Linked DNA regions of Homo sapiens: regions 2, 3 and 4 are each linked to region 1. Evidence: fine-mapped expression QTL. A gene starts in region 1. Each other region holds a variant in brackets. All regions are shown on one strand. Distances are between the middles of the regions. Region 1 holds the start of SLC49A4 (solute carrier family 49 member 4). Region 2 overlaps HSPBAP1 (HSPB1 associated protein 1). Region 3 overlaps HSPBAP1 (HSPB1 associated protein 1). Region 4 has its middle 15 kb from the start of LINC02035.

What was found. PIP is the estimated chance that this variant, and not a neighbour inherited with it, causes the effect. A credible set is the group of variants that fine-mapping cannot tell apart.
Region 2: its variant is the best candidate, but not a certain one, in a credible set for the expression of SLC49A4 in blood mononuclear cells (TOPMed, PIP 0.65).
Region 3: its variant is the best candidate, but not a certain one, in a credible set for the expression of SLC49A4 in whole blood (TOPMed, PIP 0.58).
Region 4: its variant is the best candidate, but not a certain one, in a credible set for the expression of SLC49A4 in prefrontal cortex (ROSMAP, PIP 0.52).

Annotation. Positions count from the first base shown.
Region 1 is chr3:122,792,115-122,797,266 of GRCh38, reverse strand. SLC49A4 (solute carrier family 49 member 4) reads right to left here and starts at 2,198. Exons shown (of 9, transcript NM_032839.3): 1 at 1,732-2,198. The coding sequence starts at 2,074. It overlaps HSPBAP1 (HSPB1 associated protein 1), which reads left to right and starts at 3,436. Exons shown (of 8, transcript NM_024610.6): 1 at 3,436-3,650. The coding sequence starts at 3,587. RefSeq lists a silencer at 1,872-2,361.
Region 2 is chr3:122,765,448-122,770,599 of GRCh38, reverse strand. It overlaps HSPBAP1 (HSPB1 associated protein 1), which reads left to right. Exons shown (of 8, transcript NM_024610.6): 3 at 1,718-1,899. Among named protein-coding and RNA genes, the nearest start is that of HSPBAP1, 26 kb to the left of the region's middle. The variant C/A (reference allele first, on the strand shown) is at 2,738.
Region 3 is chr3:122,756,575-122,761,726 of GRCh38, reverse strand. It overlaps HSPBAP1 (HSPB1 associated protein 1), which reads left to right. Exons shown (of 8, transcript NM_024610.6): 4 at 2,367-2,503. Among named protein-coding and RNA genes, the nearest start is that of HSPBAP1, 35 kb to the left of the region's middle. The variant A/G (reference allele first, on the strand shown) is at 1,901.
Region 4 is chr3:122,898,449-122,903,600 of GRCh38, reverse strand. No RefSeq gene overlaps it. Among named protein-coding and RNA genes, the nearest start is that of LINC02035, 15 kb to the right of the region's middle. The variant T/G (reference allele first, on the strand shown) is at 3,085.

The DNA of each region.
Region 1 (5,152 bases):
TCTCAGAATCAAGCTCAGAACTAAACACTAATGTAGAGCCTATCAAACTATTTTGCTTCTTGTTTTGGACACTATGTTTCTATGCCTAAACTGTCCTTTCTTTTTTAGCAGCTACATTATATTGTTGATCATTAAGGAATTCACAATCAACTATTCCTTAGTCTTTTTCACATGGATTCCAATGAAGGAATTCCAGTGAAGGAGGAGAGAAGGAAGTATAACTACTAACATCACCCTGCTATTCTATTCTCTTAATAACCAACTAATTTTGAGTGCTAACTACATGCCAGACAATTGCAATTCTATACCTACCTACACTTGACTTTTGCTGAGGTCTGAATGTGTTCCCCTCAAATTCATATTTTGTTTATGTATTAATTTTTCTGAGACGAGTCTTGCCCTGTTGACCAGGGCAGAGTGCAGTGGTGCCATCACAGCTCACTCCAGCTTCGACCTCCTGAGCTCAAGCAATCCTCCCACCCCAGCCTCCCAACGTGCTGGGATTACTTGAGCCACTGCGCCAGGCCTCAAATTCACATTTTGAAATCTTAACCCTCAAAATGATGGAATAAGAAGGTGCAGCCTTTGGAAGGTGATTAGGTTATGAGGGTGGAACCCATGTGAATAGGATTACTGCCCGTATAAAACAGACCTCAGAGGGATTCCCTAACCCCTTCTTCCATCTTATGTTATAGTGAAGAGACCACTGTGTAGGAAGCAGGCCCTCACCCGACACCGATTCTGCCTGAGCCTTCATCTTGGACTTCCCAGCCTCCAGAACTGTGAGAAATAAATTTCTGTGTTTATGAACTACCCAGTTTATGGTATTTTGTTATAGCAGCTCCAGTGGACTAAGACAACCTTCCAAATCTGACTAAAGAACTCATTGCAACAAAACTTATAAAAGGTTGAACAGAAACTGTACAAAGTAGCTCCCAGGCATTATTCAATTAATAAATATAAAATCTTGCACAACAGCCTCTTGAGGGTAGACTGTCACTACTAATCATTTATCCATACTTATGTGGTAAGTATGCCTTGATTCTCAGCCCTATGGCTTTTTCTTCTCAGAGAATCACACTGGCAAGTGGTAAAGTGAGATGTCCAGGGTACCATTCTAAGCAAGCATCTTCACTCATCTGCAAGCTTTAATTGAAAGTCACAAATCTCAACTGAGAAAGCCATCTAGTCACATACACACATTTTAAAGCTGCCGAGCACCACCTTCCAGAAACCAAAGTGTCAGATCTGAGTTTCCCAATAGCTCTTCCTGGGCTGGAGTCATCTATTACACAAAACGAACTCATTATTTCCTTACATATGGGCACCGTCAATCTATTTTCCGACCTTTCATCCTCAACATCCCCATATCCCTTTGAAGTCAAAGCATCAGTCATTTTTGTCAGGTGTAAAACACATACACCGCACGTGCACGGGGATGCTCTGATGTTCACAATGTGTAAAAACTTGAACGTTTAGAGATCGCTTAAATCCCTGGTGTTGCATAAAGGGCCTTGATAAAAAACATAAATATTTGCAAGGTTGCCTTTCCATATTTGTCGCTTTGGGGACGGAGGGTTCCTAAGTCAGAAATGGAATGCTAGCAACACTCTATCACCTCACACAACCCCTATGCCGGGGCCAAGGGAGGCGGCTGGCAGGCCTGGAGCGCGGGCAGGCGCCTGCTCCCGGAGGAGAGACAGCGCGGGCTGGCGCTCCGCGACCCCTCACCTCTCTTGTCCAGGAGCCACATGAACGCGAAGCAGGGCAGGAAGCCGATGGGCCCCCACAGCACGAGCAGCGCGATGTCCCAGCTGGAGAAGCCGTAGGCCTGGCGCGCCGAGTTCTGGATGGGACCCCAGGTGTTCCAGACCAGGCCCTGAACGAACGCCAGCAGCGAGAAGAGCAGCAGCACCAGCCAGCGGCGCCCGTATACCCGCCCGGGACCCGGGACCGCCGCGGGCAGCGCCGCCGCCGCCGCCTCCCGGCTTCTCCAGGAGGCCCCCAGCCCAGGCCCGAGCCCGGGCCCCAGCAGCGGCTGCCTCTCCTCTTCGCTGCTCCAGCGAGAGCCCATGGCGACGCGTCGCCCGCGAAGCCACTGCCGGGCGCAGTCCGGGTCACCGCCGACTAGCCCAGCGCAGAATAGTCCTGAGCAGCAGGAGGCGGAGGCTGCTGTGGTCGCCCTCGGCCTCCGGACCGCGCCTGGTGCGCCTGCGCGGCCCGAGCCGGGCCGGCGGGGAGGCGGGGAGGCGGGGCAGGCGGCAAGGAGGCTGGGGTCCGCCCTCCCCTCCGCGGGTGGCGAGGAAACACCGGCGAGAGGAAAGGAGCCAGGTCCCAGACGGAGGGCAGGTAGCGCTGAAAAGGCAGGGACCAGCGCGGCTGAGTCGGGGAGAGGGAAACTCCCAGAGAGGCTGTATTCGAGGAGGTTGGGCAAGGAACCCTGGGGTGTTTGGAGGAAGTGTCCAAGTTAAATCTTGTGCCTAATAAACAACTCAGTGACCTGTTAAGTGACGTCAGTTAACCTGATGCTTGCTTCTATTTTGGGCTTATTCTCATTTTTGTTGAGTTAGTAACTTCAGAAATTATAGGCGAAGGATAAAGTTTAAGCGTAGTTGGTCCCAGGGGATTATCTCATAAAAATCATTTCTTACGTGCAATAAGTACTACCTATTTTTGTTACTTTTTTGTCTTACATATCCAAAGAGGAGATTCCAAACTAGCCAATTTCATTCATATATATGTAAACTTTACCCATTTCGCCTGCCAATAGGCGAGCAATAAAGGTATGTCCAGTAAAGTTGGAAGATTTTTGCCCCAAAGATCCATCTCCAGTGATTATGATTTGACCACAGGGTAAACGAGAAGAAAGGTGGTTGTTGATCTCTTCACACAGCTGTTTGTTTATTTTGGTATACAAATTCAGAAGCCTGACAGCTGTGGATTAGTGTCCTTGAAAACCTAAAGTCAAGCAATTTGGCTTGTCTGGATCGGGAAATGAGTCACAGGGAACGCAATCACAGGATTCTTTGCCCGAGGTTCGTATTTCCCGGCAGCCACTAAAATCAGAAGGAGTCAGGTTACCACCAGAAGGGCAAGAGAGGTGTAAGAGAAGCGTGAGCTAGCCTCGCATTCCAGGCTGCCAAGAGCGGCTCGCGAAAGCTCACGGCAGAGACCCATCCCACCGCCGGAGCCCCACTAAGCGGCAAACCTTCCCCTAAAACTCCAATCCTTTAGGGTGGAGAAAAGCCGAGGTGGAAAGGAAGGATCTGACTAGAAAAGGAGAAACAGAAACGAAGCTAAGACTACAATAAAGAACGCTAAGGTCCGGGTTAGGTAAAAAGCGCCACAACTCAGACCACGTGTTTGTATTTCCACACCCGGGGTATCAAAACAAAGCTGCGTGGTCCCGCCCAGCATCCGTCACGTGACCTCCACGTGAGAGCCGGCGTTTCCGTAGGAGCCGGGCGGGAGTCGCCGGGGCTCCTTCCTGTGGTGCAGCTTCGGGTCTCGGAGTTTGGCCCCTACTCTGACCCCACCCCAGCTCCGCTCCGCCTTGGGTTCCGGCAGAACCCGCCTTGCGGTAGCCATGGCAGCAGGCTCCGAGGCGACCACTCCTGTGATCGTTGCGGCTGGGGCTGGAGGGGAGGAAGGTAGGTGCCAGGCTGAGGTCCGACCCTGAGTACAAACCCAATGCCAGTTGACTCTCGTGGCACCCCTCGTGGGGCCGTTTGCCTTAGCCCCAACCCAGGTCTCTCTGGCCTTGCATTAGACTATGAAGAAAAATCTATATTTTCTAGTGAGCGTGGCATTTCTCGAATTGTGGCATCCAGATTTTTGATCGTCGTAGGGTAGCCTACGAGTGCTGTTTCACGCATGGGGTGTTATTTTTGTTTTGTTTTGTTTTATATTTGCCCATCATTAGCTAAATAGAGGTGTTTTGAACGTTTAGAGGGGATTAAAATTAAATTTGTGAAATTGAAGGCAACCTTTGAGATTAATGGAAGTTATCTGAGACTTTTGTGAACAGGGATTATGCGCTTTTATTCTATTTCAGTGAACCCTGGTTTAGCAAGTGGGGATGAGGTTTGGAGGCCCATGAGCCTGAGATCCCTGTTATTATTTATTGAATGATTGCACCGTGCAGGGCTGTGTTCTGAATACTGTCGCAGGATCCAGAGACTTTTGAATATTTATAACAATACCTTTTCCAAAGGAGCCTAGAAAGGAAAAAGAATGACTTACTATGTGGTCACCTGAACTATTCTACCAGTAGTACACTCTGTGAGGGTTGTTAGGAGGAGGGATCTCAGTGGGGAGAACATAAATGCTTCAAGGAGCGAATAGTTTGAGGTCGGCCTTTCTTTTTCTTTTCTCTCTTTTTTTTTTTTTCTTTTTTTGAGACGGAGTCTCGCTCTGTCACCAGGCTGGAGTGCAGTGGCGCGATTTTGGCTCACTGCAACCTCCACCTCCCAGGTTCAAGCAATTCTTCTGCCTCAGCGTCCCAAGCAGCTGGGACTACAAGCGTGCCACCACGCCCAGCTAATTTTTGTATTTTTAGTAGAGACGGGGTTTCACCATGTTGGCCAGGATGGTCTCGCTCTCTTGACCTTGTGATCCGCTGAGGTGGGCCTTTCTGATTGGATGAGATGGTGACAAACTCAGGGAGTGGTGCTGGGGTTCAGGAAGTCAGGGAGCAGAAAAGGATGGATGTATTTAGGGGTCAAACAGTTTGCTGAAGGGGGAGATGCCCATTCCAAGCAGAAGAAACAAATTATAGCCTCCTACTATCTGACCACTTTCTACCAGGGAGACAATTCTTGACCTTCATCTATACCTCCATTGCATTGATCTTTCCATTTTCTATCCACTGCACCCCCTTATCCAGAATGTATGTCGTTCCTTTGAAAAATTCTCTTGTCCCTTCCTGCACTTTTTTCTGACAAAACTCTTACTCTGGATGAAGTCAACCTTTTGCCCTCTTTGTACCTGCACCCGTGGGCCTGAACTTTGCTGGAAAAAGTCCTGCACAAACTGATGACCGTATAAAGTGAAAATGGCCAAACTCTTGAATATTCAGTCAGTATGGGCTTGAGATCCCTCTGATCCTCTGTTTCTCTAGTGAGCCTGCTAACGTTCTCCAATGACAAATTCC
Region 2 (5,152 bases), 27 kb after region 1:
CTGCCCGAGTAGCTGCAACTACAGGCACGTGCTACCACATCTGGCTAATTTTTTTGTATTTTTTGTAGAGACAGGGTTTCACCGTATTGCCCAGGATGATCTCAAACTCCTGGGCTCAAGTAGTCCTCCCACCTCGGCCTCCCAAAGTGCTGGGATTATAGGCATGTTCCACTACGCCTGGCCAATGTTGGTATGTTAAGAGTTTATGTATATTGATTGTTTACTATGTGCCAGGCACTAAGTGCTTTACAAAAATTGTTAAAATTTAAATAGTTCTTGAATATGTACATTTTAATCTTTTAGATAAATGTGCCCTAGTTAAGTTCTTCTGCTTCTCAAAGTGAGGTGACAAGTTAAAGTGGATGAATTAGGATGATTCGTTGACATACACCCTGCCTCTATTACCTCTCTGCCATTCTGTGGCTTAGGAAAAAGAAGGTAAAGGAAAAAGATTATTGGATAATTCTAAGCAGTTACAGGCAGAAACGTAAGAAAAGATAAAAGCTGTTGAAAGAAGAATGTGAATATTCTTCTCTTCCTGCTACTGATTCAGCTAACTTTTAAAGGGTTCCAAGTAAATATATGAATGGATAAGAAGTACTAATAATAGTGCCTAACATTGACTGGGCACGGTGGCCCACACCTGTAATCCCAGCACTTTGAGGCCCAGGTGGGCAGATCACTTGAGGGCAGGAGTTCAAGATCAGCCTGGCCAACATGGCCAAACCCCATCTCTACTAAAAAATACAAAAATTAGCCAGACGTGGTGGCACATGCCTCTAGTCCTAGCTACTTGAGAGGCTGAGACGCGAGGATTGCTTGAACTCGGGAGGCAGAAGTTGCAGTGAGCCGAGATTGCACCACTGCACTCCAGCCTGTATGATGAGCAAGACCCTGTCTCAAAACAAAAACAAAAAATAAAAAAATAGTGGCGAACATTTATTGAAATCTGCTGTGTCAAGCACTGTGCTAACTGATCTACATCACATCCTGAAAGGATTTCATGTTTTGTAAAGGAAGTCATAATCAGATTTCTTAAATATTAACTTCCTCTGTTCATTTAAGTTGCAAAAATAAAATTAATTTCATCATTCTTTTAGAATAGTTTTTGTGTCAATCCACTGACTCCAATCTTGACTCATTGGAGTCATACCCATAATAACAAGCCACTGTGGACAGATAATACATCTTTTATTGAAGCTTTCCTGATCAACCCTCATCTCTAGTGGTCTTTGCCTTTTCCAGGTGTCAGCAGCATAAAATTTTGCATTTAACTGTATGGTGCCTCAAGTTTTTATTTACTAAATCCTCAAGTTTGGATTATTAAATCTACTCATAGGGTAGTCTTTAATCTTAAGGTTAAAACTGCTTTATACTTTTATGTTTAATCCTGAGTATTGTGAATTTTGTAAATGGCACTCATTATATAACAAGTACAAATTAATTTTTAAATTTTTTAATTAATTTTTTTTTGGAGATGGGGTTTTGCTCTGTTGCACAGACTGGTCTCAAATTCCTGGGCTCAAGCCATCTTCCTGCCTCAACCTCCAGAGAAACTAGGATTACAGGCATGCACCACCACACCTGGCTCAACACGAATTTTTAATTAGTCTTCAAAGTTAATTTTTTGGTTGAAATTATCTTTATTTTAAAAAAAAAACAATAATTAGGAAATGTGTTCATTATACATTTAAGGTTGCATTCTCTTACATTGCAGTTCCTCAGTTTGAAACTACATGTAATTACGTAGAAGCTACACTCGAAGAGTTTCTGACCTGGAACTGTGACCAGTCTAGTATTTCTGGACCATTTAGAGATTATGACCATTCCAAGTTCTGGGCTTATGCTGACTATAAATATTTTGTCAGTCTATTTGAAGACAAGACAGATCTTTTCCAGGTAAGTCAGAACCTTCCTTCTAATCTTGGTAGGAATTTGTTTTTGAGAAAAGAACACAAATTAGAATCTCCCTGGCACCTTCTCTGCCTTTTTCTCTCATAAGTAATCGCCATGAATCTTGGATATTTCACCCACTCAAACCAAAAGATTTGCTGAAGAGAAGTGTACCATTTGGCTCACACAGATGAGCAGGCTTCCTTGTTTTCCTACTCCCAAACTTCCTACACACCCTCCTTTGCTTTTAAACAGTGCTTGAGTCGGTTTGGAGTATGTTAGAAGCATAGATTGTGTATAAAACTTCATTGCCTCCTGACCTCCATATAAGTTCTTGTCCTGTCAGTGAGGCAGATGAAAGCATAAAGCTGATTCTGTGAAGGAGCATTCCTTGGGCTGTGACCAGGCTGCTGCTGCAATTTCTACCTGCTCTAGGGGTTTTGGACAGCTGTTTTCTCTGGCAGTTCATGGCCTGAGGCAGAGAACACTTGGCTCCCAGTATTTGGTAGTGGAAGCCCTGTAGAAGTGTGGGAGTGACTTGCAGAAGTAAAATTATGGAAGTTCTTTGCCGTATGTTGACATAACTGACAACAGAGTTTCCAGACTACCATATCCTCTTTTAAGTGTTTTCTACCTTAAACTGGCAGTTTATTTTGTGAGATAATTTTGCAAACTCCCTGCTCTTGTTGCCATGTGTCTTAGGTGTGGGGCAGGAATGGGAGCCATCCTGGAGGCTGTTTGGAGGACTCTGCCTTGCCCTGACTCAGGCCAAGGCTCCAGAGTCCTTCTTCCTGCCCCTTCTTTGTGGAGAGAAGTATTTCACCATCCCTGCAGGCTGTTCACC[C/A]CTTCTCCTCTCTGCCACCACCCACTCTCTGGACTTGGCTTTCATATAGGCTGATAGTTCTTTGGCTCCTCAGTAATTTTCCATTCAGTGTATATTTTTCTTTTTTATGTTGAGTCAAGATGTAAATGCTGATGTTAACATAGTTATTATAATAGATCCTCCCATCTCAGTCTCCCGAGTTGCTGGGAGTATAGGAATGTGCCACTGCGCCTGGCTTAATTTTGCTTTTTTATTTTATAAAAAAGGAAAAATGTGTCACCTTGCCCCATAGTTGTTTTTTTTGTTGTTGTTGTCATTGTTGTTTTGAGATGGAGTCTCACTCTGTCACCCAGGCTGGAATGCAGTGGCGCAATTACGACTCCCTGCAACCTCTGCCTCCTCCCAGGTTCAAGCAATTCTCCTGCCACAGCCATCACCCACCCCCTGACCCCAGTAGCTGGGATTACAGGTGACTGCCGCCATGCCCAGCTAATTTTTGTATTGTTTTGTAGAGACAGGGTTTTACCATGTTGGCCAGGGTGGTCTCAAATTCCCGACTTTAAGTGATCCACCAGCCTCGGCCGCCCAAAGTGCTGGGATTACAGGCGTGAGCCACTGTGCCCGTCCTGTCATAGTTGTTAGTTGAGAATGTATTTTCATTCTCATACCCATGAAAGAAATGCATAGGTTTTAAAAACATTCAGTAAATGACTCTGAATTCAAAGTCAATACCAAATCTACTATTTACTCATTTTTAAATGATAATTTTAAGGTAGATGTTTTTTCTTACAACCTTAATTGTGATCACTTTATGGTTCTTTAATTATGGAACTTACAGGTTTCATAGTTAACTTTAAAAGTGTTTTGTTATGTTTCTCATACCCACGCCCCACCATTCCGTAAATTAGACTAGTACTTTACTCCATATTTCAGGTAAAATATTGCTTAATAGTAACATTGATCATGTACTTACTTTTTGGGGGAATTTTTCTAATGTTTTACACTTATAATCCTCAAAGTAACTCTATGATTTAATAATTGTCCCCATTTTAAGAAAAATGAGACCCAAAGAGGTTAAGTAAACCTTTTCTAAGATTATACAACAAGGAAGGGGTAACCCAAATAGTCTGCCTTCAGAGCTTTAACTACTACAGAGCTTTAATTACTGCTGTGCCTACAGAGCGTGTGCATACATTCGGTCCTGTTGGGACTCTCTGTCCTGAGTGTAGGCTCACTCTGCCTTGGATGAGTGTTTGATCTGACCCCATTAGTAGTTCTGTCCCACCCCAGGCAAGGCAGTACTGTGCAGTATGTGACCTGTCCATTAAGTGCGGATATAAAGGGCAGCCTTTTGGCAATGTGCTGGAATTCTGACTGAGCCCTTATAAAATCTGATATTTTGAGTTGAATGAGTTTTCTGTCAGCTCATATTATGGCAATTAATTCTGCTATGAATAACCAAGTCCATTAAGATTATATCATCTTTTGTCTCAAAATTTTCTGGGCACCAAGTCTTCTTACATCACAGGTACCTGTGTTGGTTTAATTCATTCAGCCACCAAGTCTTATTACTTGCTGTTTCAAGCTTTCTTATATCTGTCATAAAATGGTGGGTAGTTAAACATTAAAATGGGTACATTTTAAAAATGTTTATTGATTTATTTAAAATGACACAACCCACTATACGTTAACATAATAATATTTTTGAGAAAATAACTATATTCAAAAAATGTTTAATGTCATTAGAGGGATAGATTGTTGTACATTTTGGCATGTCTTCTTGATGTCTGGCTGTAAGAAGACAGCTGGATTCTCTGCTTCTCCATTCAAGCTGTTGCAATTTGTTGGTTTGTTTAAAGTATATGAAGAAAATTTTGCCTCACACACATATGAAACTGAAAAAGGGAGGAGTATTTATTAATAACAGCCTTTTCAGATAATTGTGGATTTTTTTATACCACACACACCAAACTTGATGAGGGGTAGTTTCTTAAAGGTTCATTAGTTGCAGTATAAAAATCTGAACCTATAATGAATGAACTCTCTACTCTTATAAAATCCATTGGTCTGTCTTGCACAGAATGGATCTTATGTAATGTTATTCATGGACCATTTGGAAAATATTGACTTACTGAATTAGTAGATCTTCCAAATGTTGACACATTTTCAGTATACTTGATACATTTCATTATTCAAAAAGTCACATTTGTTAATACCACTGTTCTTATCAGAAAAATAGTGTTAGGAAGCTTTCAGGCTCATGTATTTCTTTTTTTTTTTCTTTTTCTCTTTTTTTTTTTTTTGAGACAGAGTCTGACTCTGTCACCCAGGCTGGAGTGCAGTCACATGATCTCAGCTCACTGCAACCTCTGCCTCCTAGGTTCAAGCAATTCTCCTGCCTCAGCCTCCTGAGTAGCTGGGATTACAGGCGTGCAC
Region 3 (5,152 bases), 36 kb after region 1:
AAGCCTTGACCTCCCAAGCTCAAGTGATCCTCCCTTCTCAGCCTCCCAAGTAGCTGGGACCACAGGTGCATGCCACCACGCCCAGCCAATTTGTTAAAAAAAAAAAAAAAACCTTTTTGTAGAGACAGAGCCTCACCAAACATTGCCCACGCTGGTCTTGAACTCCTGGACCCAGGCAGTCCTCCCACCTCAGCCTCCCAGAGTGCTGGGATTACAGGCATGAGCCACTGCACCTGGCTGACAGTTTTGCTTTTTAAGTCATTATTACTGTTAGACAGGAGGCCAGGGAAGTCTCTCCTCAGTTTCTCATACAGTAACCTCACCCTGTAGAAAAACCTTCAGTGATTCTTTCCAAAGCAGGGCTCTAGAACAGGGTTTTTCATGTGGGGTTGGTCTGTCACCTCTTTGAAAGTATATATAAAGTTTCGTGTGTGCTTTTTTCTGAGGAGAAGGGGCTTTGGTATTCATTAGATTCCTGAAGGGATGTATCTATAAGATTAAGAATCACATGACCTATCTCTTCTTAGCTAAGGCAAGTCTCTCTTTTTTCCTTTTTATACTGAATGGCTTTCAGCTACCTTTAGTTAAATTCCTCAGACTGAGGTGTGGTAAATTGTTCAACAAGGACCAGGTTAATTGGAAGCCTCCCCTAAGCTCCCTGGCTGGGTGCAGGGCCCTCCTGCTGTGATCTTAAAGCATTCCCTGCATACTTGTGTCAGAGCGCTTGTTACATCATATTGAAAGGCTCTGTTTATGGGATTATCACTCATTATTAGACTTGAAGGGTTGGCCTGTGTTATATTAATTTTTGTATCCCCAGCACCCAGCATCATACCACGTATATGGTAGGTACTCAAAAATGTCATTGGCCTGAACTATTTTAACCATCATAAGTCAACAGATTCTTCTTTCCCTCCCAAGCAGCCAGTGTGTTCCAAGCTGTAACCCTGAGCCAGGTACTAAATTAGGCATTGAGAAAACAGGGGTAAGCTCCCAGTATGGAGCTTATAGGCTACATGCAGAGAGAACAGGATTTTTGCCACCCACTGGAACTGCCACATGTGAGCCATGTGCATTTACAGTGGTGCTGACCTTGCAAAAATTCCCCCTTCTATGACAGACATTAATTATGTGCACGTATTCAGCCATTTTCATCACTCAAAGCAAAAATGAAAAAAAAAAATGCTCTTTCTAGTCTTCCTCAAAACCATCCATTAAATTTCTCTTTAAAATCCTTTCTCTTTGAATACAGCTGTTAATGTTTTCCCTCTAAAAATAGAAAATTTAGACTGTAGTTACTGATAAAAGGAGTGTCAGCATTGAGAACGATGTTCTGCACATAGAAGTGGGGTGTTTTTTTTTTTGCTTTTATTTTTTAAAACTGAAAGGAAAACCTCATGATTAAAATAAAAATAAGGCAGAGCCATCATGCCTGGTTCACTAGTATGTTTTTTTTCTTTTCTAGCTTATAAATCTGTTTAATCACATGGATTTGGGTTTATGTGTGACCCTATTTTTCTGTGCTGCAAATGCGCCATCGGCTTCTAAAAGTATAGGCTTTTCCCAGTAGTTGACTTGGGCAGGATTTGCTCACAGAACCAGGCATATGGAGAGTCTTAAGTCCAGAGCACTATGCTGTCTCTGTTCTAAAGATCATTGCACTTAAGAAGTTCATGACTTTGGGGAGTATATTGAAAGCCATCCATGGATGTATATTTCAAAAGATGTATTTTGACACCCTCATCTGAAGACTGATCTAGTAGGTATGAGCTAAGGCTCCAGCATTGATAGTTTTAAGTAACCCCACTAATGTAGGAGAAGTCTTCATTTATGTGGTCATTGAAGTACACAAAGTTAGTAAGTTGCGTATGTACACAAATATCTGCACTGCTTAGAGGAA[A/G]TACGGCTTTCTGACTTCTTCGGTTGTGTCTCAGAGATATTTGAAATAATGCCATTTCCGCTGCATTCACTGTTCTAACTGCCCAAAACACGCTTTCCCTAAATATCAGCATAATCCTGTCTGTTTATTGTCTGTTTCCAACTCTGAAATGTAAGCTTCATCCGAGTAGGCATTTTGTCTCTTTTGTTCATTGATTCATTACAAGCTTCCAGAACAGTGCCTGGCATGTTGTAAGTAGTCAGTAAATATTTGTTGAATGATTACTATTAGTGTGGTTATTCAAATATGTTATTGGCTAAAAAGATTTCTTGAACTGCCCTGGAAACCTAACCTCTTCCATCTGTAGCATTTTCCATAATAGAATATTCCAACTGCTAAATAACAGATGTGCAAGTGAAAATGGGCAGCATTACCATACAGAGAAGTTGGTTAGTTCTTGATGGATTGCAACTTTATTTCAAAACAGGATGTGAAATGGTCTGACTTCGGGTTTCCTGGAAGAAATGGACAGGAAAGTACATTGTGGATTGGCTCCTTGGGAGCCCACACACCCTGTCATCTGGACTCCTATGGTTGTAACTTGGTATTCCAGGTACAAGGAAGGTAATGTGTGTGTGTGTGTGTGTGTGTGTGTGTGTGTGGAACGCACATGTGCATGCATGCAATAGGGGTGGCAGAGAGAATAGGGCAATACCCCAAGGTGTAGTCCCAGCCCCATCCTGTCAGCCTGCCTCATGATTAGGGCAGACCTCTTAACCTCTGGTTTTGGTTTCTCCTCTGTGAAATGAGGACAGTTAAAATGGTGGTTTACAGGTGCGTGCCTTGTCATGATCAGGATTGTCTTCAGAGAGTTTATTCTAGAACTCTGAGATTCCACTCCCAGGTCAGCTAGACAGCTCTCTGCTTGGTCTTTTTTTTTTTTTTTTTTTTGGTAAATTAGAGACATTTGAGACAGTCTTGCTCTGTTGCCCAGGCTGGAGTGCAATGGCATGATCATAGCTCCTGGACCTCAAGCCATCCTCCTGCCGCAGCCTCTCAAGTATCTAGGACTACAGGTGTGTGCCAGTATGCCCAGCTAATTTAAAAAACTTTTTATTTAGAGATGGAGTCTTTCTGTGTTGCCCAAGTATGGCCTCAAACCATACTCCTGCCTTGGCCTCTCAAAGTTCTGGTGTGAGCCACTATGCCCAGCCTATGCTTAGCTTTTCTTTTTTACATAAGAGTTTGTAGTTTTCAAACTTTTATTTAAAAATGGGAACACCCTTTCTTCAAATCTAAATAAATAAGAGCAGAGCAGTTTGTTGAAAGGAAGAGGCTTCACTGTTGCCCTCAAGCTCCTCTCCAAGGGATGCCAGCGATCCTGGTTTGAAAAATACTGGACGCTTTCAACTCTAAATTTTAGTTTGTGCCTACTTGACACAATACAGTGTATTGTTACCTTAGGTCAGTTTTTGTCTCCATCTATCTGTGGACTCTAGAAGATACGAGGGATAGGCAGTGCTTTTGATATACCTGGTTTCTGGAGTTCTATGAGAGTCTAAGTGTTTGTGCCACTTGGAGGATGTACTCAGATGTATGTGCAGCCTTATTTTCCCCTAATTAATGATGCCCCAGTCTTTTCTCCTGGTCATGTGGGACATTTACAGGGCAGCACAGAGAGTAAAACAGAAAAGGTCATGTGCAAGTTCTCAGACCTATTAGATGTGAAAAGGATTATGAGCAGATTCAGGAGAAATAGTCAGTATGTCTGTGGATACATTTCACATGTGAAGAACTCTGAGAATTACAGAATGGTAGAAGTTAGTCCACTCTCTGATGCATTCCGTCTTTATTAAAGGGCATAGAATGTGTCAGGTACATAGCTACACGCTGTGGATGCAAGAGTCAATCAGATGAGTGTGGTCTCTATCCTTGTGGAGTTAACAGGCTGAAACCTTAAACTTGGTAAGAGAGACAACATTTTAAGTAGCTGCTGTCCATGTGTTCTGAATTGGAAACAAGCCAAAGAAATTCAAGTTGGAAAAACATCAAAAAATACCTGAATTCTCTCTATGATATAAAGTTAATATCACTTTATTTTAACTTTGTAATAAGACATTTTCTGGCCTTATATAACTCTGGAATAATAAAATAGCTTTAGTAAATATCCATTGAGTATCCTTCTGTACAGGGACCATGTGTTACAGTAGGTACAGAGGTGAGGGAGTAAGACACCCTCTCTATGATGGGAGTTTACAGCCAGAGTGCAAGGCAAGCCGACAGACATCCATGATACAAGGCAGAATACCCATGCTCTAGAGGAAGGTTTCACAGAGCTGTGGGACTAAAAAGTAGAAGAGATCATGTTCCTGTTGTAAAGATCAGGGAAGATTTCACAGAGGAGCTGCCATTTGTGGTGGGCCTTGAAGGATGGATAAGTGCTCAAAAGACCCAGATGGGAAGGGCAGAGGGACCCTGAGAAAGCATGGGGTGTAGAGAGGACCCCTTGAGTTGTCCAGTATATGTTGTGCATTGGAGACAGAGGGAGTAGACCAGAAAGGCAGGTAGGTTGAGTCCCCAGGGTCTTGACTTCCAGGCAGACACTGTTATTCTCTGTTCTTTCAGCATCCAGAACCATGAGAAGTTTTTAAAGCAGGAGATCACATGATGATTGAATACCTTTTCTAATAGAAGGATTCATGCATTTTACATTTTTTAACCCAAACAAAGCAGATTGGATGGGATGGTTATCATTATGGCTGTTCCTTTGGGAAATATTGCTGTGGTGCAGGGGAAGGAACTGGGATCTGGAGAAGCCAGGAGATCTGTGACCTAGCTCTGAATCCACCACTACCCCAGTGAGTGACACTGGGCAAGCTCTGAGTCTTTCTGCCACTACTTTGGAAATGAAATTAGACTGATGATCTCTTCAGAGCCCTTCCAACTCTAACATTCGAAGCATATCAATACTGAAAACTGCTTTCAAACTAATCATACAGTGGAATGGAGCAGCTCTTAAAGCTTAAATTAAGTTAAAGCTTTAAGATTAGGCAAACAGCTTTTGAACCTCAATGGTTTTTAAGCTGATGGCCGTGTAAATTGATAGGCTGCCTTATAGCTCCGAAATGAATTTTTTTTTTTTTTTTTTTAGATACAAGGTTTTGCTTTGTCACCCAGGCTGGAGTGCAGTGGCACAATCATAGCTCACTGCTTCCTCGAACTCCTGGGCTCAAACAATCCTCCCACCTCAGCCTCCTGAGTAGCTGGGACTAC
Region 4 (5,152 bases), 110 kb before region 1:
GCCTCTGAGACTTGCAGCATTCCAAAAGGGGATCTTCCAGAAGAGGAGAGACATCCCGCCATTTCTACCAAACGATGTGTCAGTCACCTGGGTCCAGCATTTCAGGAGCTCCCTAGGAAGGAGTCTTTTAACTGGAGGTCCACCAGGCCTGTGCTCACTGGGGCCCCAGGCTCCTCCCAGGGCCCAGCTGTTCTGAGCCAGCCTGGCCTGCCACTCAGACCACTCCATGGCCCCCAGCTGCACTGCTAGGTCACCCTGACGACTCACTGAGAACCCTGCAGGCCAGCCCCAAACACGCTGCTCTGGAAAAGCCTCTCTCCTCATCCTGAGCTGCCAACAGGGCACTCACTTAGTCCTTGGGGGCTGCACCTCTAATTCTGTAGCTGTGCTGACTGGGGGAGGCTCAGGCTTTAGAGTCTGAAATGTGAACTCTGGAGTTTGTGGGAAAATTTATCCCTACCCATAAGGTCCTTCCACCAATCACCCTCCAATCACCCTAAAAGGGAGATGTTTCCCTAGGTTTGCACCCCAGTTTCCAGGGCTGGTAGGATACAGGACCCCCACCGTACTTGGACATTCCTAATCAGCTCTGCCCAGCACTGAGCACTCTCAAAAACAGAGGGTCCACTTCCCCCACCACCCCTGATAAATCTCCCTTCCGAGATTCCTAGGGGTGTAGGCTCCAAAGAGCTCACAGTACAAAAGGATATCCAATAAAAAGTGAATCTCCCATTCTTGATTCCTAGGCCCCAAGATCTCATTCCATGAGGCACCTAGAGGTAGATCAGGGACACAGACACATATATGTATGTTTATCATGTGTGTACATAAAATGCACCAAAAGTCAGCTTTGGCCTCGATATTCAGTAGAAATCTTTGAATTGGCCTTCAACCTCAGCTTTTGGAAGTTTCAGTAGCTGAATGCCTACCTCAGTATTATTTATAATATCCCTGAGAGTTTGTGCTTAATCTACAGTCATCGTTAACAGGTTATCACCATATCTTTTTTTTTTTTTTGAGACTGGGTTTTGCTCTGTTGCCCAGGCTGGAGTGCAGTGGTGTGATCATGACTCATTGCAGCCTCAGCCTCCAGGGCTCAGGCAATCTTCCTACCTCAGCCACCCAAGTAGCTGAGACTACAGGCGCATGCCACCATGCCTGGCTAATTTTTAAAAATTTTTGTAGAGATGGAGTCCCACTATGTTGCCCAGGCTGGTGTCAAACTCTTGGGTTCACACCATCTTCCCACTTTGGCTCCCAGAGTGCTAGGATTACAGGTGTGAGCCACTGCACCCGGTCTATCATTATATCTAATCAGCATATCAACATTAGTAATATGCATGAGGCATACCATTTAGATTTATTAATAGATGATACTCACTATAAATATCAAATGAGTCTTGAAGTGAAAGTCTCTTTTATGCTTCATATGTTAAAATTCTCAGTCATTTGAACTACATATATTTATTATTATAAGATTAAAAAGCCATAATAATTAATGTTTCACATAATGATGGTGAAAGCTGCTAATTTTATGTTCAAAAACAAGCACCTTTAAATAGCAAATAAATTGAGAAAAAGACTGAGAATTAAAAAGAATATTGAGAGAGAATGTTAGTGAGATAACTTTAGGAAGAACATTATCATCTCTGTAAGCCAATGAATGTTAAACAATTTTCAATAATACCAGTCAGAATAATAGATATTTGATTAAGTCATAACTCTAGTATCTGTCTAGTTTGGTGCATATCTCACATGCATTATGGTAAATAAAATCACCTTTAACAATTATGTTTGATTTTTGATATTTAATTCCATTTAGGTTATGAGTCTTTCAGGAATAAATTCTATTTGGGAATTCACATCTTATGAAAATGAATTTTTAAAAAAAGAATGTTAGCTTTTCTATCTCAACATTCCATAAGCAGAAAAAAATTGCAAAACCATGTACAATATCCATGACAAATCACCTTTGATTCAGACATAACAAGGGATATAAAGAGAATGAAGAAAAGAAAAAAAGTACAGGAAAATGTAATATCCGAAAAATACCTGGCTTCTCTCCCATTCTCAGTGGAAAGTGACCGTCTATTTCTTATGACAAAACTGCAGTGAAGGCCAGGTGCTGTGGCTCATGCTTGTAATCCCAGCACTTTGGGAGGCTGAGGCAGGTGTATCACCTGAGATCAGGAGTTCGAGACTAGCCCAGCCAACATGGTGAAACCCCATCTCTACTAAAAATACAAAATATCAGCTGGGCATGGTGGTGGGTGCCTGTAATCCCAGCTACTTGGGTGGCTGAGGCAGGAGAATTGCTTGAACCTGGGAGGTGGAGGTTGCAGTGAGTTGAGATCTCGCCATTGCACTCCAGCCTGGGTGACAAGAGCAAAGCTCTGTCTCAAAAACAACAACAACAAGAACTGCAGTGACGTGATCACAGAGCCATTTTGCAGCTGATCATGCTGAGTGATTACTGTTCTTGCACCATAAGGTCAAACTTAGAATTTGACCATTAGCAAAACTATAATAATAATTACATTCTTTGGGATGAAATTTCAGGTTAATTCTTGCATCCCAGGAGTTTCATTCTGAGATGGTAATATTTGGTTTTGACCCCAACTTTAACCCAATATTGATTTTAGCATTTGCCCAAGTGTGTGTTCTGGGCAACATATGGGCTCACCTGTACACACTATTCTGCACCAGCTTTCCCACTTAACAATCTGTCACCTAGAGTGTTCCATGTCTGTCTTTTCCCCAACAATTGCCACCAGCATTTATTTAACCAAACCCCTAATGATGAACTTTTAGGATATTTTCAATCTTTTGTTACAATGTTGCAAATACTTTTTTTTCTTTCTTTTTTTTTTTTTTTATAAGACAAGGTCTCATTCTGTCACCCAGGCTGGAGTGCAGTGGTGCAATCATGGCTCACTGCAACCTCTGCCTCTGCCTTCCAGGCTCAAGCGATCCTCCCACCTCAGCCTCCTGAGTAGCTGGGACTACAGGTGCATGTCATCACGCCCAGCTAGTTTTTTGTATTTTTTGTGGAGATGAAGTTTCACTATGTTGCCCAGGTTGGTC[T/G]CAAACTCCTGGATTCAAGTGATCCACCCTCCTCGGCCTCCCAGAGTGCTGGGATTACAGGCGAATACAGGTGAATACTATCCTTATATATATATAGCTATAATGGCAGAATGAATTCTGAAAAAATAGAATTACTCAAAGAGTATACATGTTTTTAAATTTTGATAGATTTGCCCAACTTACTGTAACATTACCTTATATCTTTTCTTTTTATGTCTTTCTCTCATAGAAGTGATTCTCCACTTTTAGTGCAGAGTTCATTCTAGGGGAGCAAAAAAGTTGGCCAAAGTGACTTGACAGTCCCTGCATCTCCAGGCCCTTCTCATGGGAGAAGAGTCCCTTCTTCCTCCCATGGCCCTGGTTCCCCAGGAACCTGGTCAGATGTTCCTTTAGAGCCACACTACACCTGGTTTTGTTTTGTTGTTTGGGTTTTTTGTTGTTGTTTTGTTTTTTCAGACAGAGTCTCACTCTGTCCCACAGGCTGGAGTGCAGTGGTGCAATCTTGGCTCACTGCAACCACCGCCTCCCTGGTTCAAGGAATTCTCCTGGCTCAGCCTCCCAAGTAGCTGGGATCACCAAAGCCCGCCACGACACCCAGCTAACTTCTTGTGTTTTTAGTAGAGATGGGGTTTCACCACGTTGGCCAGGCTGGTCTCAAACTCCTGACCTCAGGTGATCCACCTGCCTCAGCCTCCCAGAGTGCTGGGATTACAAGCATGAGCCACCGTGCTCGGCTTACAACTTTTTTTTTGTTTGTTTTTTTGCCATCAAATCTTGCCTCTTTTGATGTCTTATGTTTCCTGGGTTCCTTTTCTTTAAAATACCAATTGGCTACGCAGATTCCAGCCTAAGTGTGACTGGTTGACTGTGCATAAAGGTTTTCAGGGTCTGACCTCAAAGAAGTCAGTGATGTTGGGGCTTTCAGGATCTATACCTGGGCATTTTGGGCAGAGGGAATCCCAAAGCCCTCGACACTGAAGCTGTCTGGGATCCTACGGCCCTCCCTTCTTCCACCCCTTTCCTTATCTCAGGAGTAGGGACAAGGCCCAGGGTTCCTGGAATTCCTCCCTGGTTCCCCCAACCCTCCGTTACCAGCACTTGTGATCCGGGCAAGGAGTGGGGCCCTTCTGGCTGTTTAGGGCATCTTTTTAGACTTACAGAGTTCCTGTGTTCTCTTCATCTTCATTTTAATGTCCATATGATCCCTAAATGGTGATAGAAAAGCTGTTACTGTCACTTGATGTGTGGGAGGGGCTTGAGACAAGTGGGCATGGGAAGACCAGACTTCCATCTCCACCCTAGAAAATGACAGGCAAATGGACATCTCAGTCACGGTTTTGTCATGTCTATTACTCCCAGGTTTCTGAAACAGCTCCTCCCACCCATCCTCCTCCCAACAGACAAGCAGTGTTGAGCTGGTCTTTGCACAGGGATGGCTACAGATTGGCTGCCTGCCACGGTGTGCAGTCTTGAAGGACCCTATCCAAAAGCCCAGAGGGAAATCAGCTAAGCCAGTCAGAGTGGCTGTCTGTGGGATCTGGACTGAAGAATGAGGATAAGATAGGCTAGTAGCAATAGAAGAATGTAGCAGAAACACCGAGACTGCGAGGGAGAAAGACTGGACTGGCTGAGATTGAGAGACAGGGAGGGAGAGAGAGAAAGGGTAGCTGGCCCCCTCTTGGCTCCAACCCATATCCAGTCGAATCACTTCTTATGATGGCTGAAGTGACTCTATGATTCTTGTAACTGTAGGAGCTCTCTATCTCATGGACATCCACGGGTGTGGCTCAGAACTCACTCTCCTGGACCAACTTCTCCCTCTACCCAAATACCCTACAAAGGAGATTCTTTGCCCAAAAGATGTTACCATTGGCTTGGCCTATGATCTTTACTTTTAAATTCTCTTTCAGAGAAAAGAGGAGTTTGACACATTTGTGTTTGCTTTCCTGGGCCACATCCAGAAATAAACGGTCTATGTGCTGAGGTAAATCCAGTTCCCGGACATCTTATCTCCCCACTCAGAGGAGTGAATCCAGCTCTCAGCCAGCACCACACATGTTCCTGCTTG